Regions from separate parts of the Homo sapiens genome. Here region 1 is linked to region 2. The links come from fine-mapping of genetic effects on gene expression. A gene starts in region 2. The other region holds a variant in brackets. All regions are shown on one strand. Distances are from middle to middle. Region 1 holds the start of LOC124902885 (a long non-coding RNA gene). Region 2 holds the start of MGP (matrix Gla protein).

Region 1 (16,128 bases), 27 kb before region 2:
TACAGTAGAGTAAATGGGAGTTCAGAAAATTTAAGTAACTTCTTCAAAGCCCTATGGCTAGTAATTCAAGCTTCAGAGACAGCCTATGTAGTTGCCCTTGCTTTTTTATGACTGGTGCCTGTGACTGAATCCTGTGGTTGTCTATTGCCCTACACTGCCTTCAACAGGAAACACCCCTTTTCTTGTGGACTAAAATCTGGCCTACCTCTCACACCATCTTTATCTCTGTGGAGTTGGTGACTCTATTTCCACTTCTGCTAAGGCTCCAAACACATATGCCCCTGGGGTATTGGCAGTAATAATCAAAAAGGTGTTCTTCTGCATGTGGGGCCAGAAAAGATGATCTTATGGTCCCTGGGCTATGGCCTCCGTGTTGTGGCATTTTGCAAGCTAGCTAAGGCAGGGGCATGCACTAACCTTCCTGGTTTCTTATGCCTGATCTGTCTCTCATTTCGCAGAGCAATGACGTATCTTTTTTAAGTTCCATATTATTAGTGAAGGCAGATTATATCAAGAGAAAATTCAGTAAGAATTTCTTTAAAGAAGCAAGTTCAATCTGTATTGTTACTTTTTTTATTTCCTGAAAGTAATATTTTTCTCATTTGGAGAACTGCCCATTCTACTATAGCTGTTTCTCATCTGCTTCTGGTGCAAAGGTTTGCACCAGTAGCAACTGGGCAGAAAATCCCAGCCATGCACCTGACCTGCCACGCACTTTTAATGCACACACTCAGTACTTGGCGTCAAGGTGTCTGTTAGGATTAAATGAATCCATTCGGCTATGGTCAATCCCTTCTGCCAAGATAACTGTACCTTTTGACATCTTAGCTTTTATTTCTTTACTCTTCCCAGGAATTATCCTCCATCTCAGTGTTAGAATAGTGAATGAATGCTCTAAATTTAAGTAGCAGGATTTAGTAAAACAAGAGTAAATCATGTGTCATCCAATCTCCCAAATGAAAAATCTAAAACTTGATTTTAAACTCCACGGAGAAATCTTTAGGAAAGGACCTACTGGGCCCTCCTTGCCTACATATTGTAGGCAGCCAAAAGAGCTGGAGAATCTTTACAAACTTGTGTAAAAAATCAGGAAGAATTCTACCTAGCTGTGCCCTTCCCCATCCTCCTAAGACTCTGACCAAAGATTTGTTAACCCACCATGTTCTCTCTCTTCCTGTGTACACACTAGTTTTGTAGCAATGCTTTCTGAATTTAGGAGAGGTGAAAAGAGATGAGATTGGTTTGAAGTAGACTCGCAGCATTATTTCAGGACAGTGAAATGAAGGGAACCAGTGCCATGGATTCCCCTCTTTTTCTTCTCCTCTGTCTGACTGGTGGCTGTTCCACTCCTCTAAGTCATTGACAACTTCATGGAAAAATCACCATCTCTAATCAGCAAAACAAGGTCAATGCTTCTGGTCTCCTGAAGAGCTCACCTTCTGCTGACCTTTGGTACATTGGTTCAACCACATTTGAGATCGAGTTTGTTTATATGGGGTTTTGCTATCCACTGTGCATGAGGCAGTCCATCCTGATGATCAAGAGCATGGACTCTGGAGCTAGACCACCTGGTGTGAATCCCTGTCTGCCATTTATTTGACTCTTGGAGAATTAGTCTATCTATGCCTCAATTTCCTCATTTGAAAAACTGGGACCTTGAAGATTAAATTACTTATTCTTTGTTAAGAGTTGGAGACAGTGCCTTCCACGTAATGAACACTCAATAAGTACGAACTACTAATATGTACTCAAACAAAGACTACATTTTAAGTGTCTCTGACTAGTCTTGCAACAAGAGAGGGGGCTGAAATAAAGTGACTAATATGTTACATAGTGTATTAGTTGTCTATTGCTGCAAAACAGATTACTCCAAATCTTAGGAGTTTCAAATAAAAAACATTGATAATCTCATGCAGTTTCTGCAGGTCATCCAATTTGGGGTGGCTAGGGCTAGGTGCTTCTGGTTTGAGGTCTCTTGGGAGGTTGCAGTCATTGGTCAGGGCTGCAGTCATCTGAAGGCTCAACTGGAGCTGGGGATCTGCTTCCAAGATGGCTCCCTCACATGAATAGCAAGTCAATGCTGGCTGTTAGTAGAAGGACTTAGTTCCTGGCCATGCGTTTCTCCTCAGAGGACTGCTTGAGTGCCCTACACTGGGGCTGGTATTCCTCAGAGTGAGAGATAGAGAGAAGAGCAGAAACCATAATGTCTTTTAAGACTTCACCTTGGAAGTCACACTCCATCATTTCTGCAACATTGTCTTGGTTACTCAGTTCTGCCCCATTCAGGGTGGGAAGGAAGGATCTACACAGTTGCATGAAAACGAGATGGTAAGACTTAACTGAGAGCCATCTTGGAAGCTAGTTCCATTTGTGTTACCAGTGGCCAGCTCTCATTTAAGTTTCAATCTACCTATTCACTCCTTCCCAGGTACTAATGCATTCTTTCTCGCTTTCACTCTACTGTAACACATTTCGACTTGCCAGACTGTGATTGGGTTATTCAACAGCGTAATTCAGATTCATCTCCTCCTGATAATGAACAAGGCCTCCCCAGAGTATGAAGAGAACATGCACAGATACCAGAAGGCAGCCAAGCTCTTCCAGGGGAAGGTAAGGCAAGAATGGGAATATCCTATTGCATACACACCTCCAGGACACTAGGAAAAGGGAGATGGGGCTAGGAAGCAGAGATAAATAAGGAAAACAACTATGGTTAGGAGATAGCAAAGCAAGAAGTAGGACATAATAAATCACATTATTTGAAATTAGAGATGTTGTATTTTATCATATTAAAGGCATATGTAATTATATCTTCCTGTAGTGATTAAGTGTGGGTTTTTTCCTGCATTGATTAGTAGAGAGAAAATAGAGATCCAAAGAGACTGAAAGCAAAATCACCTCTAAGTCACCATTTGTTTAATCCTTCCCATAATTTCATAGAGATTTAGACCTCAGGGCTCATTTCTCATATAAAACACCTATCAAGTACCTGGTGCCTGCTCAATATACAATGAATATTTCTTTCTTTCCCTCCCCTCCTTTGTGGAGTTCTGCTTGATATTACTGAAATAGTAAAACTTCAACTACTTCAAGGCTACTGTGCCTAACTAGTGACTGTTCTAATGATGAGAACTGTCTGGTAATAAAATAAGCGCCTTTCTGATGGTTGGTTCTCTAACACTGAAAGTATTTAGTGTTACTGAAAGTAGACAATCATCTGATCAGAATATTATAAAGAAGATTTCTACTTTGGGTTGAAGGTTTGATTTAATAATATAAAATAATCTACATTTATCAAGCACTTACTATAGGCCAAAAGCTGAATAAAAATATTAATGCGTTACCTCATTTAATTTCCCCCACCAAAAGCCCATTTTGCCAATGAGAAAACTGAGTCTCGGAGAGGCTGAGTAATGTGCCCAAACTCACGTAACTAGAGAGTACCAGAGGCAGAATTTAAAACGTGCTCTCTGCTCCTAACCATTAGGCTATACTTCCTTTCTTAGGTAATCACTAAAGTAATTTCCAATTCTATGTTCTTAAAATTAAATCAATCTCGTCAAAGGGATAAAACATCAAAGCAACACAAAATAATAGGAAATTCATTTTTTTTAACTTTTAAGTTCAGGGGTACATGTGAAGGCTTATTACGTAGTTGAACTTGTGTTATGGGACTTCGTTGTACAGATGATTTCATCACCCACACATTAAGCCCAGCACCAAATTGTGATCTTTTCTGCTCCTCCCCCTCCTCCCACCCTCCACCCCCCAAGTAGACCACAGTGTCTGTTGTTCCCTTCTTTGTGTTCAGGAGTTCTCATCATTTAGCTCCCACTTAGAAGTGGGAACATGTGATATTTGGTTTTCTCTTCCTGTGTTAGTTTGCTAAGGATAATAGCCTCCAGCCCCATCCACGTTCCCACAAAAGACATGATTTTGTTCTTTGTTACAGCTGCAATAATTTATTTTAACTCAAGATTTCAATTTCATGGTGCAGACCATAAATTCAATCAGTGTGAGCTGCAACAATTACAAGGTATCTCTTTATCCCTGGACGTCACCTCAGATAGAACTTTTTCTTTCAAACTTCCCCAACTGCAGATTCTCTTTATTCTGGTGGACAGTGGTATGAAAGAAAATGGGAAGGTGATATCATTTTTCAAACTAAAGGAGTCTCAACTGCCAGCTTTGGCAATTTACCAGACTCTAGATGACGAGTGGGATACACTGCCCACAGCAGAAGTTTCCGTAGAGCATGTGCAAAACTTTTGTGATGGATTCCTAAGTGGAAAATTGTTGGTAAGTGTGAGACTGCAGGTAAAGCAAATTGTTTTCTTTCTATGTCCCTTTTATTTCCAGTTGAATAAGAATTCTTTGGGCTCAGAGAGGGAGGAGAGCAAAATGTTGGTTAATGGATACCAAGTGCAGATAGATAGGAGGAATGTCTAGTGTTCTGTAGCACTACAGGGTGGCTGTCATTAAGAACAATGTATTATATATTTTCAAATAGCTAGAAGAGTAGATTTTGAATGTTTCCAACACAAAGAAATGATAAATGTTTGAAGCAATGGATATGCTAATTGTCCTGATTTGATCATTACAAGCTGTATACATGTATAGAATATCACTCTGTACCCCATAAAAACGTAACTATTATGTGTCAATTAAAAACAAAGATAAAAGCAAAAAAATTAAAGTTAAAAAAATTATTTGGGCTCTACTAGATTTGATTAAAAGCAAAAGTCTATGAGGATATGGTGGCCGGAGTCAGGATGCTTGTTAGGATATATCGTGAGACTCAAACTAGAAAAGCATGTTTGGAAAGGCCTTGCATATTCAGAGGCTGAATTTTGGATTTCAGCATTTAGTGTAAAGCATTAATGGGCAACAAATCAAACTTCATATAACAGGGTTCATGAGATAAAAATTAAAGAAGGATTTAGGACTTCCAGGAGTAAACAGCTCAGTTTACTAATCTAAATATCATTGTTATAATGTTTTCCAGAAAGAAAATCGTGAATCAGAAGGAAAGACTCCAAAGGTGGAACTCTGACTTCTCCTTGGAACTACATATGGCCAAGTATCTACTTTATGCAAAGTAAAAAGGCACAACTCAAATCTCAGAGACACTAAACAACAGGATCACTAGGCCTGCCAACCACACACACACGCACGTGCACACACGCACGCACGCGTGCACACACACACGCACACACACACACACACACAGAGCTTCATTTCCTGTCTTAAAATCTCGTTTTCTCTTCTTCCTTCTTTTAAATTTCATATCCTCACTCCCTATCCAATTTCCTTCTTATCGTGCATTCATACTCTGTAAGCCCATCTGTAACACACCTAGATCAAGGCTTTAAGAGACTCACTGTGATGCCTCTATGAAAGAGAGGCATTCCTAGAGAAAGATTGTTCCAATTTGTCATTTAATATCAAGTTTGTATACTGCACATGACTTACACACAACATAGTTCCTGCTCTTTTAAGGTTACCTAAGGGTTGAAACTCTACCTTCTTTCATAAGCACATGTCCGTCTCTGACTCAGGATCAAAAACCAAAGGATGGTTTTAAACACCTTTGTGAAATTGTCTTTTTGCCAGAAGTTAAAGGCTGTCTCCAAGTCCCTGAACTCAGCAGAAATAGACCATGTGAAAACTCCATGCTTGGTTAGCATCTCCAACTCCCTATGTAAATCAACAACCTGCATAATAAATAAAAGGCAATCATGTTATAGGAGAAAGGCTGGCATCTCTTTGCAGGCCAAACCTTTTGTAAATACCCAGCTGCCCAACTAAGCAGCATGTTCCTCCCTCTGCAGTGCCCACTGTTTAGTGTCAGACCATAAGCCACTAACATGTTATTGTTCACTCTGTGGGTGGGATGGGTGGAAAATAGAGACCATCCTGCATGAGGATTGGAACAAATGTGGCAACTGAGCTAGGAAGCAAATTAGGTGAAAGGTTGGGGAGCAGATAGGAGAAGCAGGGCACTGGCAGTGGGACGGGCTGAGGCTGACTAAGCCTTGGATTATTGCAGGTAAGGTGTGTGATCCAGCTCCTGTGTGGTGAAAGGAGAGCTTGGCTGAGTGACTCTGGCCCATAGGCTGTTACTATCAACACACAGATGCTGCATTGTTCCCAGGAGGCCCTTGGCTCAGGAGGAAAGTGCCTAAGTGCTGAAGAGCTGAAAAACCACAGATGTACCTAAGGACTGGTCCAAGTGAGGAACAGGGAGTGAAAGGCTCAGTTGTTCTTTCTGTGGGGAAAACTCCACAGCCCCTGGGCGGGAGTCAGCTGCTGGCAACCACACTGTGAAAGCCCCAGTGTAAGGCGTGCCCTTCAGCAACGAGACCAAGGTATTCTGTGGAGGTCACACAGTCCAACCCAGGGCTGCAGAAAACCACCCAAACAGCTTCTCGCTTGAGGCTGAAAAATATTCCTAAGATAGGCACATCCCAGAAGGCTCCTTTGGATCCTGTAAACGAGAGCTCTTGACATTTACGGTCAGGAAATTCTTCCTGATATCCAGCTGAGGTCCTCTGGCCATG[G/C]AAGCTATTTCTTCTTGCCCACCCTTTGTGGAAATTCTTAACAGCTTCCAGATGCCCTCCTCAAACCATGCCTTTAACCACTTGCTGGCTGCACTGAAGCCCCTTTATCTAGCCATCTTTCCCCCATACTCACAATCTAACTCTCATCATTTGGTTTTTATCATTTGATTTACTTCATTGTTTTTCTCGCCTCATTCTTTCCCAACTTTTCCTCTTTCTTGCTTAAAATAGTTGGAACCCAAACTATAGTAGGACCCATGAGCTACATTTTGTTTGATATTGTGCTAATTTTTCAATTATTTTTCTTGAAGTGTTCCCCTCAAAAACAATAATCAAAATGGACCACATGGGTCTTAACATCTTTACAATGCATTTTTCTACTTGCTGACATTCAATAACAATTTTATTATATTATTTTATATACTTATTTGTATGTGTATAATATTGAAGTGAATCCTTCCTTCTCATCTTGTAGTTCTTCATAACTGCCAGTTACTTTTGCCGGTCTTCTTCATAGGCAGTCCTGTTCTTTGTAGCTCCGGGGGTCTCATAACCAAAGAATGGGACTTCAGAAAGAAGAAATTTGTAAAGATTCACCCATTTATTAAAGATCAGATCTTTAGAAGGGCACAGTGACTCATGCCTATAATCCCAGCACTTTGGGAGGCCAAGGCGGGCAGATCACAAGGTCAGGAGTTCAAGACCAGCCTGACCCACATGGCGAAACCCTGTCTCTCCTTAAAAAAAAAAAACAAGAAATACAAAAAAAAAAAAAAAAATTGGCCGGGCATGGTGGTGCAGGCTTGTAATCCCAGCTACTCAGCAGGCTGAGGCAGGAGAATCGATTAAACCTGGGAGGTGGAGGTTGCAGTGAGCCGAGATCCTGGATCCTGCCATTGCACTCCAGCCTGGGCAACAGAGAGAGACTCTGTCTCAAAAAAAAAAAAAAAAATCAGATCTTATAAACATCTGCAATTTTTTCTCTGTCTTGAGAATCTTTTGCCAGGTCTACATCCATTTCCCCAGGGCTATGTTATTGTTGAGATGTCTGGATACATCTCAGCTATTTTTCATTGTGGAATCATTCAATGGCCCTCACTGACAAGACTGCCATACTTTTTCTTTAGAGTACGAAGGAAGTGATAATATTATACAATATAAATTTGAAAAAGATGTTAACATATTTGGAAGACTATGATGGAAGGAGCGGGACTGAAGCAGGATTCAAAGGAATGACTGGAAAGTTTGGGTTTGAGTCTCACCTATTCTATGTATGTGCCTCTATGACACTGGAAAAATTACTTTTATCTTTGAACTTTAGTTTATTAAGGTTAATGTAATAATTATTAGGATTGCTTGAGATCCCAGGGTGATAATCCCTATTAAGTAAAGTTTGGCTATTACTTTTCTCTTAAGTTAATACTACATTGCCTTCTCTGGGAAATAATCATTTCTCTAATTGTTAGAACTTACGGGAAGGCAGAGACTTCATTCAGGCTGTTTCTTTGAGGCTGAAAAAGTATTTGAGATAACAGATTTTAAATGTAGCTTTTATTGTTTTCTAGGTATGGGGTGGCCAACAGATCAAAAAAGATAGCCATTTGAAAGATAGTTTATTACTCACAGTTCCCAAGAGGAGGCAGCATGCCATGCTGTGCAGGGCCACATAGGGAAGTATCAGGGTCAGTCAGAAGGCAGAAGGAGTAAAGGTGAAATGACAAGGGCCTTTATTATGGTCTCCATGGGAAGAAATGGGAAAGGGTTAGGAGGGTAAGGAGGCTTAGGATTGGCTGGTTTCGATAATTTCAGCAGGCTCTGGGGCATAGGAGCTTTCCCTTGTTGCCTGGAACCTGGCCCTGGGTGGAGTGGCTGGGTGGTAGCCCAGCATGTGAGAGCCCCATGAGAGTCCAGTAAGGAGATAGTTGGGGTATGGACTCTGGACTGGTTGGTTTGCATATAAAAGCTATACTAGCAGGTGAGTTTATTACTATCTCCAGGAATTGGCTATCTCTAGGAGGGAGGGGCAATCTCTCCAAGGTAAGCAAAGTCCCAGATGTCAAAGCATTAGAAATACATAGTAAAACAGCCCCAACGTCCACTTGTCAGGGGATTCCTGTCCTTCCTCGCCTATTGGGTCATGCCAGAAGGGAAGGCTGCATTCATCAGGCCCATCTTAATACACATATACCTTGAGCAGTCAGGGGTAGGATGAGGGCTATGTAGCGTATTGAGAGAGAGTAGTTTATTTATATACTCATTCACTCATTTAAATATTCATTAAACAACTATGAGTGTGGCAGGCAAAGCTGCCCTCTGAGAGAGAGAGAGCAATTGGTGATGATTGGATGATGAGCTATAGAACAGAGACTTTTCAGTTGTAGTGACAACAGGCAACATGGAAGCCACCAGAATGGTTCTGAGTCACGGACAGAAAGCAGCCAAACAGGGAAAGCAATACACAAAGAAAGAGGTATGTTGTGGAGGGGACTGGGCAGGAGGCTGGCCGTGGGCTGAGGGGGCCCCAGAGCTGGGGGAGGAGGAGCCACAAAGGAAACAGTCCACAACCATCATAAGCTAACTTTATTTCACAATTGAATTTGGAACCAGTCCTATTTATTTCACCTTTCTGAAAATATCTGGTTTTCTAAACAGAGAAAAGTAAGACTGGAAGTGGGATGGATCTGACTCATGGCTCCTAATTGCAGAAACCTTACATGGCGAGACCTAGAGAATTGGAAAAGGAGAAAGTTAAACACGAACACCTTTTGAGTGTTGAACTTTTGGAAAAAAGGTACTCTGGAAATCAAAGAAGCAAGTGAATTTTAAAATCATACCTCTGTAAATTTGAAGGTGATTCACCCTCCTTCGAATCACTTCTAAGATAGGTCTCTCTTTTCTTTCTGTTCTGGAACAAGAAGTCATTGTTTTTGTGGCCTTGACAATGAAATATCTGAGTCATACTAGGGGTGGAAGGATATGTGTGAGTAAAGGATGAGGGTGTTAAGCCACTTCTATAGTTTATGAAAAGTTGTGTGGAATCCAGGCTTTAATGTTTAATTATCCAAACAATTTCACTAAATCTTAATAGCAGGATTTAATTTCTACATTAGCCCACTGGTCTTAAAATGGTAATATGGTGTTAGCATACACTTAAGGAAGAAAAAATAGAGCACGTTTGACATAATTCAAGCTGTGGTGAAGTAACAATTTTAAAATTGTTAATTTTAAAATTAACATTGTATTACGGGTCATGTTTTCCAAGAAGACTCTGCAACTAAATTCCATTGCAAGGAGTTTATTGGGGAGCGTCTGGGGATCTGTGAAGAAATAAAGAAAGTAGGGTTCCACAGAAATATAAGTTAGGCTGCGATGCAGTCACAACAAAGGCTTAGATTATCCCATGTGGATATTTGGTGCTGAGGTTTCCTTGTAGAGTACCCCAAATTGGAGAATGAGACCCAGGCCTCTATACCCCAACATTGAACATCTGATGTTGCAAGCTGCACATAGGAAAGGTGCATGCTCGTGGGCAAGATGGCTCATTTGAGCAGAGGGAGATTTCTGGGCTGGTTGGTGGGTGGGATTCATCTAAGAGCTCTTAGCTGTCAACATACTCAGAGCTGGGAGAAGCTAATGACTTTGGGGTGATCTGTGCGGCTCACCACAGCATCCACTACACATGTCTAGAACTGTATCTCCTTTTATACCATCATAGTTATTGCACCAATGCTATGCAAAAGAATAAGGAAAGGATGGATTCATTTTATCAAATAAAAGATGTAGCACCCTCATTAAGTTTGTGCTGGGGGAGAACACGTCTATGTTGTCTTCACTAAAAGGTAATCCTGCCGGGGCAGTAGAAGTATTCACTTTACAATCACTCACTCATTCATTCCCTCACCAAGCATTTCTTGAGTGCCTACTAAGAGATAAAGATGTATCAGGAAATAGATCTGGCCAGGTGCAGTGGTTCACAACAGTAATCCTAACATTTTGGGAGGCTTAGGTGGAAGGATCACTTGAGGCCAAGAGTTCAAGACTAGCCTGAACAATATAGTGAGACCCTGTCTCTACAAAAAATAAAAAATAACCAGGGTGTCGTGGCATGCACCTGTAGTCCCAGCTACTCAGAAGGCTAAGGTGGGAGGGTTCCTTGAGCCCAGGAGGTCGAGGAAATAGATCAGACTCACGAAGCCTAATGTTGACTTCACATCTTCTCCTCTCCAGCCATCTAGTTCCCTAGTGTAAGATAAACATGAAGTTCACTGGGAACTTGAGGAATGGCCTGAATTTCTAATGTACTTAGTAGATAGTCAAATATTTTAATGATAATAATAATGATGATGATGTATACGCAATAAGAATAAGGCAAAGACTTGTATAGTAACTTGGGAGTGAGCAAAAAACGATGTTAGATTTAACTCCAAATTCTGACCTTAATGCTTATTTATGCCAGCTAAATTTCATGGAGGTGATCTTATCTGTTGTTAAATATCTCTTGTCTTTATGTCCAGAGTTGGTAGTACCTTACCTTCCTGTCTTCATTTCCTGCTCCTCACTCCTGCCACATCCTCCTTTTTGCTAATAATTGCCCACCCTGTGGTCCATCCTTTACTACTTTCCTACCAGTTCATGGCCTCTATCTCTACTTCTCCCTCCATCTCCATCTCTTCAAATAATGTTGCTCTAGGTCACTACATGGGACAAAAGTTCAGGCAGGTTGAGTGATAATATGAGGGCTGAGCACAAAGGGGAATGATCAGGGAAGGAAGTCTCTGAAAGGAGGTGGATACATATTGAACAGTACGTTGAAAGTTCTGGCCCTGTCCTGCAATCTCTACCTGGTACACCATGACCATCAGAATCTTATTGGTTCCAAAGGGCACTCTTTTGAGACCTACATACCCTTTACTCCACCACACTTTGGCAAACACGTCACAGAATGAAAATGGGGAAGAATGACTACTTGTGACCTAACTCCTCAGACCTGCAGCCTCTCTTGGATTGACTCATTCTCTTGACTCCATGCTGTTTTTTCCCATAACACCACTAATAATATACCAAGGCTGAGGAAGGGAAGAGGCTAAGTCAGCCAACAAGTGGTAATGTTAGGTGTTCATGGGAGGGCAGGGTGGTTTGTGGTAGGATATTTACATGATTGTGAAATACAAGAATGGTGGTGGGTGATAATGTGATGTTGACTTGTAAGGTGAGTGCTAATGGGTCAGAGAATCACTGCTCTGTTGAAGCCAGCTGATGTTTAGGAAAGAATGGTAGCCAATATAGTTAAGGCTGGAGATAATTATGCAAGCCAGACAAAGTGTTAAAATGGCAATTTACTAAAGGCTATCTACAGTTTGAGAACTGTCTTATGACCCTCTGGTTCCTCCATTTTCTCATTTTCCAATTTTCTAAGTTGCAAAATATTCAAGTTTCTCAAGGTTTCCTCAAGAAGATTCACCATTTCTGTCTGTGTGATTCTAATTACAACTTTGTATCTTAACATAGCCATTTCTGGAAAGCACAGGTCACAAAACACAATTTCTACATGCCTCTCAAAATGTCTGATTTTAAGTTCAATGTTATCAAATTCTAAGCAGAGATGGAAATTTTAGGAATGAACTTAAAAGGACTTCGTCACTTGATAACTAACGAATGAATGAGGAAAGCTGTGATAACCATCAATCAGGCTCTTAAAAGAAATGTATTTTGAAGAGGCCATTATTAGTTATGATTCTTAGTCATCAAAAACAGAATAGAACCCAAACCACAGCAAAGGCTATTTTGTTCATAGAACTAATATTAATTTCTCATCCTCCTCTACAAATTTCTACGTTTCTGTAAAAGACACACCCCTTAAATAAAGATACTAAAAAATCCTTTGAGATAGAAGGTTTTATTTTATTTTTACTATAGAGAGATTGAGCCTCTAAGATCTGAACAAAGTGGTCACAGTTGTATGAAAGGGAAGAAATCTCAAGGGAATGGAGAAATCTCCTAAGGATAAAGTCACTTTTCCAAGCAGCCATTGTCTTCACCAGTTATGGTGCTCAGCACTCAAAGGACTGTTAGTGTTTGGTTTAGTTGAAACATCTAGTCTTTTGCAGTCTGCCATTGGAAAATGACTGTACATTGGAAGAGTCAAGGAAGGAGTATCATTCATCATGAAGGGGCCTGTGAAAGAAGATGTCTCTTTGGGCATGAAGAGTTAAATTTTAAAACAATGAGTCTTAGAAATGAAATGACTGTTCTGGTTCCAAATGTTGTACATCTCCAAAATTAGCCCAACATGTTGAAGTAAATTAACTAGAAGCACTTTTTGTGAAAATGAACATAGTATTTAGTATTAATTTACTGTACAACTTCACTACATCTCAGTATTCATTTACTGTACAACTTTCCATTGTACATTTCGGGATTCATTTACTGTTACAACTTCTCTAATTCCTATTAATGGAGGGGATTGGGGGGAGATCATGGCCCACTGTAAAGAAAATTAGAGGAGGGATATTTGGGTTCTAATCCTGACCTCCCTGTGAAACTCAGTATGCCATTTTGGGAATATCACTGTATCTCGTTTTCTCCACAGGTGAAATAGAGTTCAAATTAATTTTCTTTTCTTTTTTTTTTTTTTTTTTTTTACAGTTTTTTTCGTGAGATAGGGTCTCACTCTGTCACCCAAGGTGGAGTGCAGTGGTATGATCATAGCTGTAACCTTGAACTCCTGGGCTCAAGCAATCCTCCTGCTTCAGCCTCCTGAGTAGCTGGGACAATAGGCACTTGCCATCACATCCAGCTCAAATTAACTTTCTGTCTCCTTATAAGTATACTGTAGGGATTAAGCGAGATGAGGAATGGAAAGCATTCTGAAATGTAAAAATACACATTGACTTTGGCCTGGACTCAGACATTCCTTAAACGTTGATTAAGTACACACCTACCTGCATCTAAATGCTGAAGCACTACTGAAGGCACCCTAAAATGGCTGAGAAGGAGAGGGAAGAAGCCAGATAATCTCCAAACACAGAGTCTACCAATTACTAAAGAGTTTACTGTGGGCCGGGCACCATGGCTCATGCCTGTAATCCCAGCACTCTAGGAGGCCGAGGCGGGGGGATCACAAGGTCAGGAGTTCGAGACCAGCCTGGCCAATATGGTGAAACCCTGTCTCTACTAAAAGTATAAAAATTAGCTGGGTGTGGTGGTGGGTGCCTGTAGTCCCAGCTACTTGGGAGACTGAGGCAGGAGAATCACTTGAACCCAGGAGGTGGAGTTTGCAGTGAGCCAAGATCGTGCCACTGCACTCTAGCCTGAGTGACAGAGCGAGACTCCTTTTCAAAAAAAAAAAAAAAAAAGAGTTGGCTGTGAATCTATGCTCAACTGTGTGCAAATTGAATTGTTGCCACATTTATGTTCCCAACCGACAGAAGCCAAAATTAAATCTCCCCATTTGTAGGTACTGTCTGGTAATTTAGTGATACATTGCTTTAATCTATGGCTGTGAATGCAGAGGCAAAAACATCTAACTTCTCTGAGACTCAGTTTTCTCCACACAGTTATGAAGAAAATGCCATAAGGGTCCTTCCTAGCTCTAATCTCTTGAGTTTTGAAAACTGAAGGAAAAGGAGGTCAGAATTGATAGACTAACTAGTTCATGTCCCAGGCACCAGGCCAGACATTTTGCCTCTCTATTGTCTCTTCATAATGAAAATAACTTCAGTTCAGTTAAGGCCAGTGCAGCCTTAATCTACTGCTGGTTTGTAAATCAATCACTCACCCCAACTCAAGAGCAGCCGATTCTATTTCTGTATGACTTTCTGTGCCAAAACTCAACCCCCAGTTTGTTTGGTTTTAATAAATGTATTCTGTTGTTACGGACATTGTGTAAAATGGAAAAAACAAGTCTAGACTGGTTTTAGTTCAGGAAGTTAGGGCAGGGTCCCTTTATTAAAAATAAACATCCTCCTGCTTGCTTCCTTTTCACTCTTTTCTCACAAATCTGTTCCCAAAAGCCCTTGGAATCCGGGACTCCAACATGCAATGATTGCCCCAGATCTCTGTACTACACCTGACCACTTTCTGAAATATTTGAAGCCGAGGATACAGGAAGTTCTTAAAGGTAACAATACAGGTTGTATGTGACACAAAATTAATGATCTGATAACTACCCTGATAGGATCTTTTGGCTTCCTATAACGAAAGTTGGCACAATTATCCTAGCGAATGAGACACATTTTTAGTCTGAATCTTGCATTCCTTGTTTTTTGGCACTCACTGCCTTTCTAATTAAAGATGGTGGCCTGTAACACTTCCTGTCCCGTCGAAACAGGAAAAGTTCCCTTGTCCCCCTCGCAGGGTGTGCGATGCAGATGTGGCTCGCTTCTTCATTGTCCCGCTGCTCAGACCTCTAGGGGAGCATGCAGATGGGCAGGTTGTTGGGCTCCGACCCCATGACAGTGTCTAGGGGTGAATGTTTACAGCTCCTGAAGCCCCAGTGGGTGTGTGTTACAGGGTGCTCTTTTAGTTTAGCCATCCGTAGTCGGCTTGCGTAAGCTCAGTTAGACCCTTTATCTTCTGCAAAGACGGAGGGCTTTCTGTACCCTGGGTTCTTGCCTTGATGTACCAGAAGAATCAGATCACACCGAGGCTTGGAGAATGAGTGCAAGGTTTTACTGAATGGGAGTAGCTCTCAGCAGATGGGGGAGCCAGAAGGGAGATGGTTTTCCCCTGAAGTCTGGCTGATCAGCAGCCTGGACTCTCCTCTAACTGTCCCTACCAAATTTGTGTCGTTCTGCTTCTGCCGGTCGGTGGCCTGCAGGTGTGCCAGTGTCAGTGTGTTCCTCTCGACGTCCAGCTCAGCTGCCTCTAGTCTGCCTGCTAGGGTCTTGGGAGTTTTTATAGGCACAAGATGGGGGCATGGCAGGCCAGGGTGGTCTTGGGAAATGCAACAGTTGGGCAGGAAATGCCTGTCCTCACCTAGGTCTGTGGGAGTGGAGCCCTAGGGAGGGACCACGCCCTCCTCTACCCAGCGCTTCCATATCAGCAATAGGGTATTTGATGCTGTAACTCAATCCAGGGTCGAGTTTGTTTTCAGTCCTTGTCTTTTCACCTTTGGGGTTTTCCTTTTTTTGGTGGGTCTGCCTCTTTCTTTTCTTCTCAGGGGATTTTGTGAAGTACCATTAAAATATAAAAGTTTCTGATTAGTGAAGGACACAAGTGGCCTGCAAGAAGAAATACATTAGTAAATATTTATTGTTCTCCAGCAAACACTTGGAAGAGCATAGTGTGGCAGTTAGGCGCAAAGGCTCTGGGGTAGAGAACCTGAGTATTTACCTACCGTGTGAACCTTCACAAGTCTCATTTCTCTGTGCTTCAGTTTCTGCAATGTGAAGTGCGAATAGTAACAGAACTAACCTTATAGCCTTATTGTGAAGATTTAAATAAGCAGCACAAGTTAAGCACTTGGAAGGTGACTTGGCACAGAGCAAGCCTCAGTTATTACAATTGAGGAATATCCCAAAGCACTCAGAAGTCACATACGTCTCAAGCTTTCTGTGTTTTTTCTTTG
Region 2 (16,128 bases):
TCTTGCTAGTGGTTTGTTGGCTGAGGGATGGACATCCAAACACCAATCAGCCCTAGAAACTCTTGCAAAATTGCATTAAGAACAAAGTGTTCCTTCAAACACTGAATTATATAATTTCTCTATCGTGTTTATTCATTTCAAGGATGAAATAATTTAGAAGCACAAAATTGTACAGGTCTATTCCAGCTCTTCTGTTTAAAAAGGCAAATGGCTTGCTCAACAGTAACGCAGCCATTGGGTGGCAGTGTCAGAACTACACTGAGCATCAGCCAGTTCCACAGTTCCCACTGGACAAGGCCTTGCTGAGTCAATCCCTTCCATGTTTTGCATTCTCTCCTCTGCTTTGGTTTTCAACAATCTATTCCCTCGTTATTGGGAAGAAGTGGAAGTAACACTAGACCAGTGGAGTTGAACCTATTTTTTGAAATAATATTGTGTGTGCATGTACTCCACAGCATTAAAAGTATGTAGGCCATTAAGCTAGGAGCTCGGCAGGTATTGCCTTATTTAATTCATCTAATGGTCCTCTGAGTTAGAGTCCTCTAACACTTAGTGAGCATCTAGTATGTTGCAGACACTTATAATCCCTACCTGTGTCACTGAGGCTCAGGAGCTTAAACAGCGTATCAAATGCCACACACAGAGTAAGCAGTAGAGGCCATGCACAGTGGCTCACATCTGTAATCCCAGCATTTTGGGAGGCCGAGGCAGGCAGATCACTTGAGGCCAGGAGTTTGAGACCAGCCTGGCCAACGTGGTGAAACCCCGTCTCTACTAAAAATAAAAAAAAATTAGCTGGGCATGGTGGCATGAGCCTGTAGTCCCAGCTACTCAGCAGGCTGAAGCAGGAGAATCACTTGAACCTGGGAGGTAGAGGTTGCAAGGAGCTGAGATTGTGCCACTGCACTCCAGCCTTGGCGACAGAGCAAGACTCGATCTCAAAATTTAAAAAAAAAAAAAGAAAAGGAAAAGCAGCAGAGCTAGAAGTCAAATCCAGGCTTTCTTATCCTAAAAACTACATCCTTTGGCCAGCTTCTACAGAGCCTGTCTTTAGAGTCCTATCAAGGTTTTGTAACGATTGTTTGTTAGAGTAGCTACCAAAAGTATGGAGAGAATATCTAGATGAAGTGCAGCTCGGGAATGCTCACTCCCCTCCACCATCTGCTTTTTTGTTGTTGTTATTGTTTTGAGAGAGCGACAGAACAGATGAAATGGGTACGGGCTGGAATATGGAAGGAACATGGTAGATTTGACTCATGCAACTACCAGATATTCTTCTAGTTAATTTATTACCTAAACTTAAAATCACCCTAAAAAAGATTTAAATTTCCATTTCAAGGAAGCACCCTTAGGTTAGACATGGGGTCCATTCAGATGCATACCTCTGACTGAAGGATTGCAAAGACAGCATATTTTCATTTCTCATGTCAACTTTAAAAGTTATCATCGACTAGTTTTAACTTCATTTGGTAACGAATGTTATGTTTACTTAACTTTTAAAAATTATTCTCTGTTGTTTAAAGCTTTACTTCTATCTTCCCTAAAACTACTTCTTTTAACTCATACCAGTGCTATCAAGTTCTTGGGTACTGTGATTTGGTGAATTAAGCTATCTTTCTCCCTACTCCCTTCATGTCTTCACAAGTGGTAAATATAATCCCACTCTGCTTCCATCTCACTCCTAGAGACATCATGTCATTGTTCTTGTATCCCCTCTCCTCACCAATCCTACCTTTAGGATCCTGTTTCTGCCAGTCACCAATAACCCCTGCAATTCTTGCAAGTTACTTGGCTCCATTTCTTGGGGTTGTAAATGTCTTGAATATAAAAAGGAGTGTTTTTACTTTGGTGATTTGGAATAATGAAAGGAGATTACGAGGATATCCCAAAGTGTGGGATGACAGCAGAATAGATATAAAAGGGTGCCTTCTTTTCCAGCTGAGACCATGGTACTGCAGGAGAAATTCCTCGGACTTTGTCTTGATTGCACCTCATCCAGAAAAGGCAGCCAGAGTCTAATGAGTAAATAGCCAGCCTTTAGTCAAGACATCTTCATCTTTAGTCAAGACAGGAGACATAGAACCTGCTCTCTATTTTGCTTTGAGTTGACAGAGCATTCTATAAATTAAGCTGAGATTTCCAGTTTTCTGGGGGTGGGGACGGGGGCGGTGGTCTAAGTAACTATAGAAATTGGCCTTGTGCACTGGGAGACGACATTCTTAATATGTCAGATACACCAAACCAGAGCAAGTGTCAGATGACAGCAAACATCGGCGTTCACAGACTGGATGAGACTTGGTGATTCCTGAAGGAAGCTGAAAGGTTTTGGAAAGTACCATATTTGAGTTGGAGCTTGTTTGGGCAGATGTTTAGTGTGCAGTGTACTGGAGAGAGAAACAGGGGACTTAGGATCCAATATTAAAACTATCCCTCTCTCCATTTTTATAAGTCATTTAACTCACTGGGCTTAAGTGTATGTAGACCTTTAATTTGTATTGCACTATTTTAAAGGATTTTGAGACAATTATCATTTTAAATGTGTATATCTTAATTTTGTGTAATTTTGTCTCTAGCTATGAAATTTGAAATTCAAGGAACCCTGTAAGACGCAATCACAAAATTATTTAAGCAGGTGTCAGAACCTGGAGGGATCTCACATGGTTGTATCATTATTAAAAACACACGATTTGACATCAAACAGTCCTGCGTTTTAATCCTGTCTTTGCCATTTAGTTGTTGTGTGATCTTGGATAAACTATTTTACCTCTTTGAGCTTCCATTTTCTTATATATGAGATGTGGGTCATTATACTTAGCTTATAGGATTATTAAGAGAAGTAAATAAAAAATAAAGAGTGACTATCAGAGCATCTAATATATAGCAAGCATTTGACATATGATAATAGCGCTTGGATAGATGTATAATTTTTATTTGATATTTGCTATCTTATTTAAAAATTGAAGCTTTTCTTAAGAAGGGTGGAGGAAATAATCGATAGGGGAGGAAAAGAAAAATCCCAGCCATTCCCAGCCAAAAGCTCTCCACCTCTCAGACTTCTCCACCTTTATTTTGTTTAATAATCAGGCACCTCCAACTTTCCCTGGAAGTTTCAGCCCATGAGTCCCCAGATGCTCCTCCCATGCCTGAGTTTGACAAACATTTATTCTTACTTAGTTCAACTAAGACAAATTAAGGAAAGGAAAGAAGGATTCTATCTGTGCCTAGGAAGTTATGTCAGTTAAAGAATCTGACACACAGAATCCTCTCAAGGGGCTTCCCTTAAAAGAAAAGAACTAAGAGCATGGCACTGTCCCACGACATTGGCTGGGCTTCTGTCTCCTAGTTCATTGTTCTTTGATGTCCTAGAGAGTGATTTCTGTTTTTGTCTTCAGGGCTGCTTCTTCCTAACTCTTCTTTCATTTGCGTTTTTCCTTTAATGGCAAGGGTAAGGACTTTAGTGCTGCCAGTTTAAAAAAAATTATAAAATCAAAATTCAGTAAATAAAGCTGAATTTCATGGAACAGCAAAAAAGAAAAAGAAATCTGACTGGAGCCAGGAAAATTCCTCAAAGAGACAAAATGCCTAGCCATCTGAAAAAGAGTTAGTTAAAGGATAAGCAAGGACAGAAAGAGAAGGAGGTAGAATTGATAGGGAAATATATTACACTTTCTACCTCTATGCCATTATTTTAGTCACAGAAATACCATGTGAAAGGGATAACTCTTTTGGTATATTCTCTGGCAAATATACTTTTCTGAGAAGCTTCTCCCCACAGTAATTCTCAGAAGCTCTGCCAATGTTCCTCTCCTGCATTCCCTCCCTAAATTCAGAATTATCTGAGCTGGTCACTAGCACCTTTCTTGATGCTTTGGAAACAGAGATGCTCCTGAGTGCCCATAAGAATGGTCAGCCCAGTGAGAAAGCTCATCACTTGGTCTCCTTTAAGGCCAGTTGGCTGCCTAACAATTTTTTAAATAAGAGGAGCCACTATTAAATTTTTGTTCAAAGAGCACACTTGATGCATGAGGACAGGGCCCATATCTGTATTTTTCTCTACTGTATTTCCAGCCTAGAGTTGACAAACAGTAGATGCTCAGTACATTTGTTGGCTAGATAGATAACTTGATGGATGGCTGGCTGGCTGGCTGGCTGGATGGATGGATGGATGGATGGGAGAATTATGAAATCATGAAGCTCCTTCTGGCCCTGACAGGCATGGTCATTCTTCTCTTTTCTGCCTGAGAGTAGGTGGAATAGGAGATCTGTATTACTCCATGGCTTCTCTTGCTTCAGTTCCTACGTTGCCAACCTCACATGAGGAGAATCCTACACATGTTTAAAAACTGGCAATCATATCACTGTCTCATATTTCTGTTATCACTTCTGGGAGTTTCTTCAAATATTCTCTCCTCTGAATAACACTTCTTTTTTGTTAAGGGAAAATGTCTATATAAGTGTCTTTCATAATTATCTAAAATCTAATTAGAATTTAGAGTTTCATGTGGTCTCGTCTTGACAAGATATCCCAATTAAGAAAATGCAAACTAGCTGGCAAAATTAATTTGTTCAAATTTCAATATTTTCTGAAAATTTTCAGACAGTATTCTGCAATCTCAAACAATGCTATTCCTAACCAAAGCAACTTTTATTTCTCTGTTCCCATGTCTCGCTTTTAATATGTCTCACCTTCTACAACTGCCTCCGTTTTTCTCTGTCACTCAGTCTCTACCTAAAACTCACCCAGCAAACCAAATTGGTAAGGCTCTTCTCATTTCCCCTTCTCCGTTTTTTTTTTTTTCCTACTTCCATTCTTTTCTTCTGTCTTCTCTCAGATGAGTCAATCTTGGTCCTTTCTAATGCAAAGCTCCCATCCCTGCTTCATGCGTTAGTCCAAGTCCTCATCATAAAAACATATGACTGGAGTTGGCATTCACAAAGTTGTCTTTGAAATGGGGAGTAAGGTGACAGAGGAGAAAAAGAAGAGCTCTGGATTCTCAGACATGTTAATAATTTTTACATATCATATATAAATGGGATTTTGCAGAGAAGAACCAGAAATAGATGGGAGAGCAATGGACAGGAAAGGCAGATGAGGGACCGAAGAGACACAGCTCCCAAAAGAAAGTTAGCCTTACAAAAACCAAGACGATAAAGAGAAATGCTTAAGTTTAGGGAATCCAGTGGAAGCAGTGATTTAAGGTGAACAAAAGGTGAACCTTAAGTTGAAATGAGAAGTGTAGGATTTTCAAGTTTAGTTTCTGGGAGTGTAAAAATAAAAAAACAATTGTGATGTCAGAGGTTGAAAGATTATAGTTGTCATTTGAACTTGGGGATAAAGGAGACATCTATGACTTGGCTGGAAAAGACAGAGCTAATGTACATTGCAAAGCACATATTTATAGCAGGAAAATGGGAAGATTTCTCTTTAATTCTGGAGATGGAGTGGGGATGGGGAGAGTAGACTACTCATTTTAAGGGTGAAACATTGGAATTCAACTTGTTTGATGTTATATTAATTGGTGGTTAATTACTAAGCTAAGTACGTATAAAACTTTTATCTATGGCTAGCTTGTCCCCCCAAAGTCATGCAATATAGTGAACTGGCTTTCGCACTTTAAATTATTCATTGATCATGTAATGATTCAGATGATTCATCTTCCAAGATGGACACTGAAACTAACACTCATAGTAGGTTGTGGTTTAAAGAGTGGAACAACCGCCAGTCTCATTAGTGGAAATTGTGATGGTTGAATTTATCAAGGATGAACATACACGGTCTTCTTTCTGAGATTTTCTTTAAGATTTTCGCACAGATAATCTATTTCTTAGGTTTTGGAGAGAAAACTTGAATTTTATTGATCCCTCAGAACTCAATCTTTCAGATTTCAAAGGAGCTATTTCTTTTAATGGGGACTCTGTTAATATTTATAAAAGCTCTTCACAGGATGGAGGGTGGGAGGGAAACTCCATCCCAACAAGACAAAAAGAATGAAGCATGAGGCTCCACCTAGTTCATCACTGCTCCTTGAAATACATCAGTATTGAAAGACACATCCACCCCACCCCCAACCCAGCCCTATTGCTGTTCCAGCTCAAGAGTCAGAGGTCCCGAAGCTGTAGCTCTTCTACAATCTGCTGCTCTGTGACTTCAAGTCTGTTGTCTGCAAAGAAAACTATTGGGTTCCCAAGCAAGAGAGGCACATCTGGTAGGACAGATTTTGTGATTGCAAAAGAAGGGGGAAAAAAAGAAAGAAAGAAAAGACCTCTCTATACAAGATAACCAGAGGCATCAAACTGAAATCCTCCTGTGGAAAATAAGCTAGTACTTCTGGGCCTGATGGTGTAGTGAAAACCTGTGCTTGAGGATACATTACAGTGAAAGAGCAAAGTGAATAGTAAGTAGCTATTACTTACCTCCTTAGGGAGGTGTGTTGTTTGTCTGTACATCCCCCACAGCACCTAGCACAGTACCTTGCATCTCACCTGCCACTCACTAAAAAGTCTATCAAGTTAGTTAATTATCGAGACAACGCCCTCAGAAATGAGAGAACAGTACCCTCTTATCCTTGCTGCACTTTCCAGCACTGATACGCTGCCTAAAAGAGGACTAGGGCACAGGTTTGAATTAATGTCACAAAACTGGATGGGCAAGTTACAACGGTGTTGATTAAGGAAACAGAACTCATGGTGCACCGGATATCTCCATCCTGATGAACCCTTGGAAAAATGCCAAAGATGCATATCCCCAGGCAAATGCCTGATTAGTCTGGGATTGATAGATTGGTCTAGGATTCAGCCCTACTGGGAAGATGTCTAAATTATAATCAGTGTAGAAAGCGAAGTTCTCCTAGAAGAAGAGGCAAAGGTTAAAAAGAAGAAAAGAAAAGAAAGTGAAGTCCTTTCTCCCCCAAAACCTCTCATCAATCAATCAGGGTAACAAACAGAACACTAGGGCTCTGTCTGTGGACCAAACCCAAAAGCCCTGCGGTCAGGGCCAGGAGGGTAGATCATGTGTTTGTGGCAACTTCCTCTGTGGGCTTTTGCCCAGGTCTGTCCCCAAGCATACGATGGCCAAAACTTCTGCACCAGAGCAGCATCCTGTGTAACACAGTCAGGTCCAGCAGTTAGGGAAAACTGCCCACTCAGAGTAGATAATATCTGGAAGGAATGACTGTTTGGGAAAAGTTCCAATGCTAGTTCAGTGCCAACCCTTCCCCACCTTCTCCAGCTCTCTCCCACTGGTTCCTCCCCTCTCAACTGCTCTGGTTCTTATAAAAACCTCACAGCCTTCCACTAACATCCCGTAGGAGCCTCTCTCCCTACTGCTGCTACACAAGACCCTGAGACTGACCTGCAGGACGAAACCATGAAGAGCCTGATCCTTCTTGCCATCCTGGCCGCCTTAGCGGTAGTAACTTTGTGTTATGGTGAGAAACTTTTCTCCCATTTCTCTGTGTTTACTTTTCTGCCTCTGACTTTGGCTTACTTCTATTTTTCCTCTCCCTCCTCCTCTTCTTCCCCCTTTCTCTGTTATAATCTTAAAGTACCATTACTTTCACATTTCCCAGTCTCCGCAGAAACTGATCTGTTCTATTAAGTCTTTTTTATATCCTAAATATCCAGAGTCTTATGCAACTTAACAGGCAAACCCGTTCAGTGGTAAGTCTCTGTATATCTAGAAACTCATATTTCAGAAAGAAGATACCAAATTCCCAGCCCCCTGCATCCTCATTTTTAAGGATATTTATTTAGACTTTGGTATCAATGGGTTAAGGGTATTGTTTAAACCACTTGCCTTTGAGAAAATCCATTTTTATGTGAAGTATTAAGTATAGCCCTTTCTAGGGACTGGACAATCTCATGAACTTACTATGTTTGTTCAGTTAATTAATTTTAAAATAAAGTTTTACATCAAAAGAATTTTAGAAAAGAATCATTTTCATAACTCCTGTTGTCAGAAAATAAATTTTGCCTGTTTTCTATATGTCATTAAATATACCTGCATTTGTTCAAAGCTTATAAAAGGAAATCTGAAGCAAAGTTATTTACTTATTTCAGTCTTTTGTTTCAATTACCTAGATATTTTCATTGTTTTAAAATTTAAATTACATTAACAACCATAAAGATTATGCTTCTCACTCTTGTATTCACAAATTTTCTGTATTAGAGGATTTGATTTCTTCACCTCCTTTTTAAGTTTTGAAGAAAATTCACTTGCTGGCAAATATTAATAGAAGCTTCTTATTCCAAAATTTATCTGCTGTGCTCAGGAGAGTGGCAGAAAGAAGAAAACTTCGGCTTTGATATCGTTTCAGTTCTCTCTCTGAACTGGCATCGTGCCCAGGGTGAGCTGTCAGCTGGAGCTAGTGGTTTCTGTGGCTGCCAATTTAACACAGGTTCTTAAGAGGCTTTCGGAACCCTCTTAGAAACCTGCCCTAGTAAGCCCAGCAGAGCAACTGCCCTGTAGTTCTCTTGCCTGGAGAAACCTGGCTGTCTTCTGGATCCTTCTTAATCCTCTTTGACCCTGTTCTCAAACAGGCTCTGAATAAATCAGAGAAGAAGGTTCTCTGGAGACTTCTGTACAGCACTTAAAGTGTCTTATTTTGCTTGTCTGAAGACGTCATAGCCCTTGGGAAATTTTAGCTGAAAATGGCCACTCCCTCCTTCAACATCAGAGAAACTAAAATATAGAGATATCCACAGCAAGGCCAGAGCTAGAGAAAAACCTCATAAATCCTAAATTCCTGAAATTTCTAATAACCACACTGCTAAATATATTCTTCATGTTTTTAGACTCTTTCCTCTTCTTCCATCCCTGTATTTAAACTATCACAGTGTCTAAATTGATAAATAATAACATAATGAATCATGGATAAATATTGATATAATGAATCTTTTTTTTTTAATTTCAGAATCACATGAAAGCATGGAATCTTATGAACTTAGTAAGTGAATATTTAACTTCTTTATTCAAATCCCTTGCATTAAAGAACCTCTTCTTATTTTTAAATAAACAAGATGGAAAGATATATAACAGGGAGGGAAAAGGGGGCCTCTTTTGGAAAACTAAAGTAAATTTTTAAATCTAATGACTATAAAAATTGCCAAAGGAGCAATTTTTTAAGTTTGAAGTAGTGCAATATGGGATTTAAGCTACAGGCGACATATTTAGAAGCCATAAAATCTCATTTGGAAATTTTAAATTGGCACCACGTCAACTGCACAGATGGAAAACGAGGAGTAATGACAAATGGTAAAGCACAGAGCTGGACGCCAAGTCAGCTGGGAGACCACAGGCGCCACGTTAAGCTGAGTGCTGTTTTGGTTTTTTTGTGTTTTTCTTTCTTGTTTTTTTTTTTGAGACAGTGTCTCACTCTGTCGCCCAGGCTAGAGTGCAGTGGTGTGATCTCGGCTCGCCGCAACCTCCACCTCCCAGGTTCAGGCAATTCTCATGCCTCAGCCTCCTGAGTAGCTGGGATTACAGGCCCATGACATCATGCCTGGCTAATTTTTGTATTTTTAGTAGAGATGGGGTTTCACCATGTTGTCCAGGCTGGTCTCGAACTCCTGGCCTCAAGTGATCCACCCACCACAGCCTCCCAAAGTGCCGGGATTACAGGCATGAGCCACCACACCCAGCCAGCTGATTGCTGTTGAATAGCTGGATTTATAAAGACTGAGCATAGGAGGAAATGGCACATCACTCTCATTTTTAATTTATTCATTATTTTTATAGTGTTTAAACTGTTCATGTATCGGCAATCTAGTTATGCTTCATAAATCCTCAGGACAGAGAATTTCTCCTCAAAAGGAATTTAAAATCTACCAAGTAGAAATACAGAAATTAAGAAAGGCAAAGTGATCGTCCAAACTCAAAACCAACAAAGCCTATATGACAAGTCTCTAAGACACATGGATTGATTACTGATTTCATTTGATCAGGAAGTTAATGAAATCTACTTTATACTCTCCTTTAATTTTTGCCAATCTCCGTTTATATGAGTTGCATAAGTTAAGGCACTTTCAAATATATTTGTGTCAAGGAATATTCACGGAAATATTTCCAGCTATGTGTCGCTAAAACTGCATTTATTTATTTTCTGTTCTAAGATCCCTTCATTAACAGGAGAAATGCAAATACCTTCATATCCCCTCAGCAGAGATGGAGAGCTAAAGTCCAAGAGAGGTCAGTAACAAAACTTCATGAGGAGTGGTCATTTTTCCCAGTGTAGATCACAGATCTGAATTGGAGTGGGAAACAGCTTTTTCATCATATACATTATTTCTAATTGTATCTTTAAAATCAAAAAACTTAAAAGCAATATTCAGAAAACAACTGAATTATTAGAAAATTATTTGGGGAAAGATCCGGAAAGGAGAAGGAAGGAGGAGAGAAAGGAGGACAGAAAGAAAACTTCTATTTTCATTAAAAAAAAAAAAAAAATCTCCTGTTCTGCCTTCCCTCCCTGGTTTTTTTTTTGGTTGGTTGGTTGGTTTTTCTGAGACAGAGTCTCACTCTGTTGCCCAGACTGGATTATAGTGGCACTATCTCGTGCCTCAGCCTCCCAAGTAGCTGGGATTACAGGCACGTGCTACCATGTCCAGCTATTTTTGCATTTTTTGTAGAGACGGGGTTTTGTCATGTTGGCCAGGCTAGTCTTGAACTCCTGACCTCAAGTGATCCACCCACCTCAGCCTCCCAAAGTGCTGGGATTACAGGCCTGAGCCACCGCACCCAGCCTCTCCCTGTTCTTTAAATATCTCTTAATATAGGGGGGCATGGAGAGAAAGTCTCTCCAATATTTTCTTCTTCTTTTCCATTTTTGTATTTTTCCACTTTATCCTTCTCAATTTTGGCCTCTTCTTCCACTTTCTAGGATCCGAGAACGCTCTAAGCCTGTCCACGAGCTCAATAGGGAAGCCTGTGATGACTACAGACTTTGCGAACGCTACGCCATGGTTTATGGATACAATGCTGCCTATAATCGCTACTTCAGGAAGCGCCGAGGGACCAAATGAGACTGAGGGAAGAAAAAAAATCTCTTTTTTTCTGGAGGCTGGCACCTGATTTTGTATCCCCCTGTAGCAGCATTACAGAAATACATAGGCTTATATACAATGCTTCTTTCCTGTATATTCTCTTGTCTGGCTGCACCCCTTTTTCCCGCCCCCAGATTGATAAGTAATGAAAGTGCACTGCAGTGAGGGTCAAAGGAGAGTCAACATATGTGATTGTTCCATAATAAACTTCTGGTGTGATACTTTCATCTTGTAAATCTGCTTTCTTTTGGGAAGATATTGAGATATTTAAATCATGGCCCACCTTACCCAAAATAGGAGATTCTGTTCATCTCATATCTAGTATTAATTAGAAAAATAACTACATAAAAAGAAGGAAGCTAAGAAGGCACTCACTCAGCCATAAATTCTCTAAACCCTCTCTACCTTGGAATCCGTGAATGGAATCTGGTATGTTTTTTGCAGGATTTTCCTATTGTAAATTGTGGCAAATACAGGGCTCCCTTCATTTGCTTTTCATCTCTTATGCATCAAAGTCAAAAACATTTCTGAATCAAGATAATCTAGAAGAGAAAAAAGGAGGAAAAGGAAAAGAGAAAGCAGAAGGGACAAATAAAAGCAATTGGCAAAAACTGTCAATAATAGTTTATACACTTAACTATATCAATAATCACATTATATGTAAATAGTCTAAACAATCCAATTATTTTTTACTTCTACTTATGTTATATTTTTACTTCTACATTTGTTAAAGGTTCCACGCTACATTTTTACTATTCTTGCTTTAAATAATTTTAATAATTTCTTTTAAAGTTTAGATAATAAGAAAATATCCCGGGCCAGGCACAGTGGCCACACCTGTAATCTCAGTAGCCATGACCATACCAATGCACTCCAGCCTGTGAAACAGAGTGAGACTCTGTCTCTACAGAAAAATAAAAAAGAAAAGAAAGAAAAGATCTCATATATTTACCCATGTAATTTTCATTTCCTGTTTTCTTCATTCTTCTTTCCATCTGGTGTCACTTCCTTTCTGCCTGACGACTTCCTTTAACGTTTTTTATAGTTCAGGTCTGCAGGATTCTTTAAGTTTTGTATGCTTGTTTTTATTCTTGAAAGATATTTTCACTGTATATTGAATCCCAAGTTGCCACGTTTCTTTTAATTATTTTAAGGTATTCCACTGAATTCTAGCTTGCACAATTTTTCGATATAAAATTTGTTGTAATTCTTACCTTTGTTCCACTGTGTATACTGCATCTTTTATCTCTGGCTGCTTCTAACATTTTTATCTTTATTAGTGCTTTTGACCAAATTGATTCAGACCTATCTTGATTTGATTTTTCTTATTTTTCTTGTTCTTGAGGCTTATTGACCTTCTTGGATTGCATAAAATTAGAAAAATTTTCAGCCATTATTTTTTCAGATACTTTGATCCCTCACTCCTCCTCTCCTTTAGAGGGTCCAATGACATGCACATTTGACCACTTGAAGTAATCCAACTCTCTGATGTTATTTTAATTTTTACAAATTGCTTTTCTCTGTGTGTTTTATTTTTGACACTTTCTATTAATGTGTCATCAGGTTCATTAACCTTTTCTTTGGCAATATCTAATCTACTATTAATTTCATCTAGTGTATTTTTCATGCCAGACATTGTGGTTTTAATCACCAGAAGTTTGATTTGGATGTTTTCATATCTTCCACGCCTCTACTTATCTTTTTAAATGTCTTTGATACATTTAAATTGTTCCAATAACTATTTTAACATAATGTCAGTTATGGGTTGGTTTGATTGGTTGATTATTCTACTTATGAACCACAATTTTCTACTTTTCTGCATTCTTGCTTAATTTTATTTGACGCCAGACATCATTTGATGCCAGACATTTATTTGATGCCAAAATGCAGAAAATTTTATTTTCTGCATTCTTGCTTAATTTTATTTGATGCCAGACTTTTTGTGTACTGGATATTCTTCTATTTCTGTATGTGTTCCTGAGCTCTGCTCTGGGATTCCGTTAAATGATGTGGATAAAATTGATCAGTATTTAATCTAAGGCTAATTATTTCCCCACACTGAGGCAAGACCTTTCTGAGCACTGCGCCCAATGTCCCATGACAATAATCGTAGCCCTGAGTTAACAGCAGCCACTGTTTCCTCTATTCCTCTTGGATGGTAATCTCCCCACACACATATGCCGATCAGTCCAGTGTGTGCACGAGAGTGCCCTCCACTGATATCCAGGGATCCCTCTCACTCTTTCCTTTGCAGTATTTTGCCATGTGAAATATAGTCGCTGTGTTTTTCCAGAACTCTCAACTCCACCTCAACTCAAAATGTCCACTGGACTCCATCTTGGTTCCCTCTCCCTAAGCTATGGCCTAGAAACTCCCTTAAGGCAATAGGCTGGAGAAGTCATAGGACTTACTCTGTTTTCCATCTCATAGCAATCGCCATCTTTAATTGCCTAATGTCCAGGGTCTTGAAAGACATTTTTTCACATGTATTGCCTGTTTCTTTAGTTGTTTCCGAAGGGAAGGTAAATCCCCCTTTCTTAGATGGAGCCTTAGTTCCTTAGACTCCATCTTAGCTAAAAGTCCATTAAAACAGGCAGGGCTATTTAAACGGTGATCCCAGCCTCAGAGTTCCCCAGTAAAATTGGCTCAGACATATACTGCAGTTACATCACAATTCAAATGCTCACTCTGGCTAGCCCTACTTGCCTCACCCCTCTCATGTGTTGTTCCCCAATAAACCACTCACACACAAATCTCTAAATCTTAGAGTCTGCTTCCTAGGGAACCAAATCTGTGACAATCATTCGGGTGGTAAACAGTGAATAGTCAACCAGCATTTTCTAGCTCCAGAATCCTCTCGCTCCAGCTTGTTTTATTCGTTACATAACACTAGTTTTATAGTTTTGGAGTTGTCAAGAGGTTCAGCAATAATCTATTTCAATCCCCTCATTTTTCAGTTGAAGAATTTGAGAGCTTAAAATCTAAGTGACTTAAGTGACTGTCCCAAGGGCAGGTAATTCTATTTTCTTGAGAAATTCAGTTATACTGACCTCATAAAATCTAATTCTTTAAGCCAGTTTCTTAAAGAGTTGTGTACAAATAGCCCATATATTTTTACCAGCCTCCCATTGTGTACAGTTACACTTTCCAAACTGATGAAGCTATTTTTAATGTAGTTTCTACCTCAGTCAAAATTTTATCTACCTACCGTCTCAGCTCTATAATTTCTTTTTTTGATATATCCTTGTTTTTCAGAACTAAGACACATAAAGTAACATATTACAGGTCTTATTCTCTTCCCCTTTGCTCATCTTGGTAAGGTGTTTCTGTAGATTAATTTAGCCTGAGAACCAAAGCGTGTTTCAACATAAGCAGATTACTCTGCCACCACCCATAAAAGCAATTTGCATCTTAGAAGAGTGTCTAAGAATAAGCACTTTGTAGATAGGCCTCCTAGTTTTTAATGCCAGCTCTGCCTCTGAGAATGTGTCAATCTTGGGCAAGTTAAGTAATCTCACTGGGCCTCAACTCCCTTATCTGCAAAATAAGATTATTCTAGTACCTATCTTAGAGTTGCTGTCAACATTAAACAAATTAATATATGTAAAGTGCACAAAACACTGCCTGGCATGTAGTAAGTGCTCAATAGCTGTTAGCTATTTCTATTGTATTGTATTATACTATTACTATGGTCTGGATATTAAAAATGGCAAGACAATGACTCTTTGGAGAGTCACACCTACACCTCAAGCATCTACAATTGCCTATGAAGAGCGGTCTGCAGGATTCATAGCCAAACACTATAAACAGCACTGGCTAGTTTGTACTCACTTCACTCTTCCTCTCCTCCACCAGGCCATGGCTACCTATGCTGAGCAGCATGCAGTTTCAAAAAAGTCTAGAAAATTAGTGATCTTCATTTTTGTACTCAACTGGGTTTGAAATTTTTGCAGCCAAAGTAATTCATACTAGAATGGAACTAAACTTACATTCTTATATAGTAGTACTAGTAGTAGTAGTAGTAGTAAAATATATGCAAGCACCATGTACCCTTATCCTTTGAATGGAGGGAATCTGTAAATAATCTGTTGTTATATGTACCTTAAGTTCTTGATGTCCTTAATTATCTATCATTAGTAGCCTTTCCATCAGTTCTTCAATTTTAATGCTTCCTTGTTATAATACAGAGCTCTAATGAGAGTGAATTCTATCCTAAACTCATGCTGATTTGGAACCCTGAAACTTTGCCTCTATTGCCTCTGCTTTGCCTATATTTGCCTCTATTTATGAACTAGGGTTCTATTTTATCCTAGTTGGCCCTCCTCTGGAACCCAGACATTGCTACCCGTCTGATTATTCCTAGATATACCTTCTGCCATGTCCCTTACACCAGTAAGTATCCCTGGCCATTAATGTCAGTTCAGAACAAAACACTTTAATCTACTCTGCTTCACTGGCAAGAATGAGACACCTTAATCCAGGATGTGTTACATACCCTAAACTACCAAGCATTGCATAGGGCTGTGTCCCCAGTAGGTAGACTATATGTGTCCGACAATAAGGTGTGGAAGCAGGAGTGGCCTTACTTGTCATCATTTGTAAGCCACATGAGGAATTTATACTTTAAATCCCTACAATTCCAATCTATAGGCCTGGAAATTGTGGTTTAGAAAGAGGAAATATTTTCACCATGGAACATAGGAAGAGTCTCATTTATGTTCTAAAGCTTCACAGTAACTTCAGGCCCTTCATGCCAGGCAGCAAATGAAGGAGTCATCTTCCTAACAGGGTAATTGCCATCAGGAGAAGGTAGGGCTTCCTAACAGGGGTAATTGACATCAGGAGAAGGTAATTTCATCAGGAGAAGGTAGAGCTTCTGTTACACAATCTAAGGAGGGAGAGTGAATCTGATACCACTGAAACATCTCTTGATATGTCTGTGCCCAATCATGATAGTAAATGGACAGATATATCAGCCATGGTCTAGAAGAGCATAGTGCAGAAGCTCCCAACTCTCAAGAAAGGAGCTCTAACTCCCTTACCAGTTAGACACCAAGACCACCAGTTACGCTATGAGTGAGCAAAATC

The links.
Region 1: its variant is fine-mapped to the expression of MGP in whole blood (TOPMed, PIP 0.91).

What each region holds. Positions count from the first base shown.
Region 1 is chr12:14,903,660-14,919,787 of GRCh38, reverse strand. It overlaps ERP27 (endoplasmic reticulum protein 27), which reads left to right. Exons shown (of 7, transcript NM_152321.4): 5 at 2,485-2,610; 6 at 4,102-4,299; 7 at 5,006-5,749. The coding sequence ends at 5,053. LOC124902885 (a long non-coding RNA gene) reads right to left here and starts at 9,681. Exons shown (of 2, transcript XR_007063221.1): 1 at 9,395-9,681; 2 at 9,123-9,284. The variant G/C (reference allele first, on the strand shown) is at 6,561.
Region 2 is chr12:14,877,030-14,893,157 of GRCh38, reverse strand. It overlaps MGP (matrix Gla protein), which reads left to right and starts at 7,304. Exons shown (of 4, transcript NM_000900.5): 1 at 7,304-7,427; 2 at 8,913-8,945; 3 at 10,111-10,186; 4 at 10,878-12,294. The coding sequence starts at 7,367. The coding sequence ends at 11,019. RefSeq lists an enhancer at 11,217-12,416.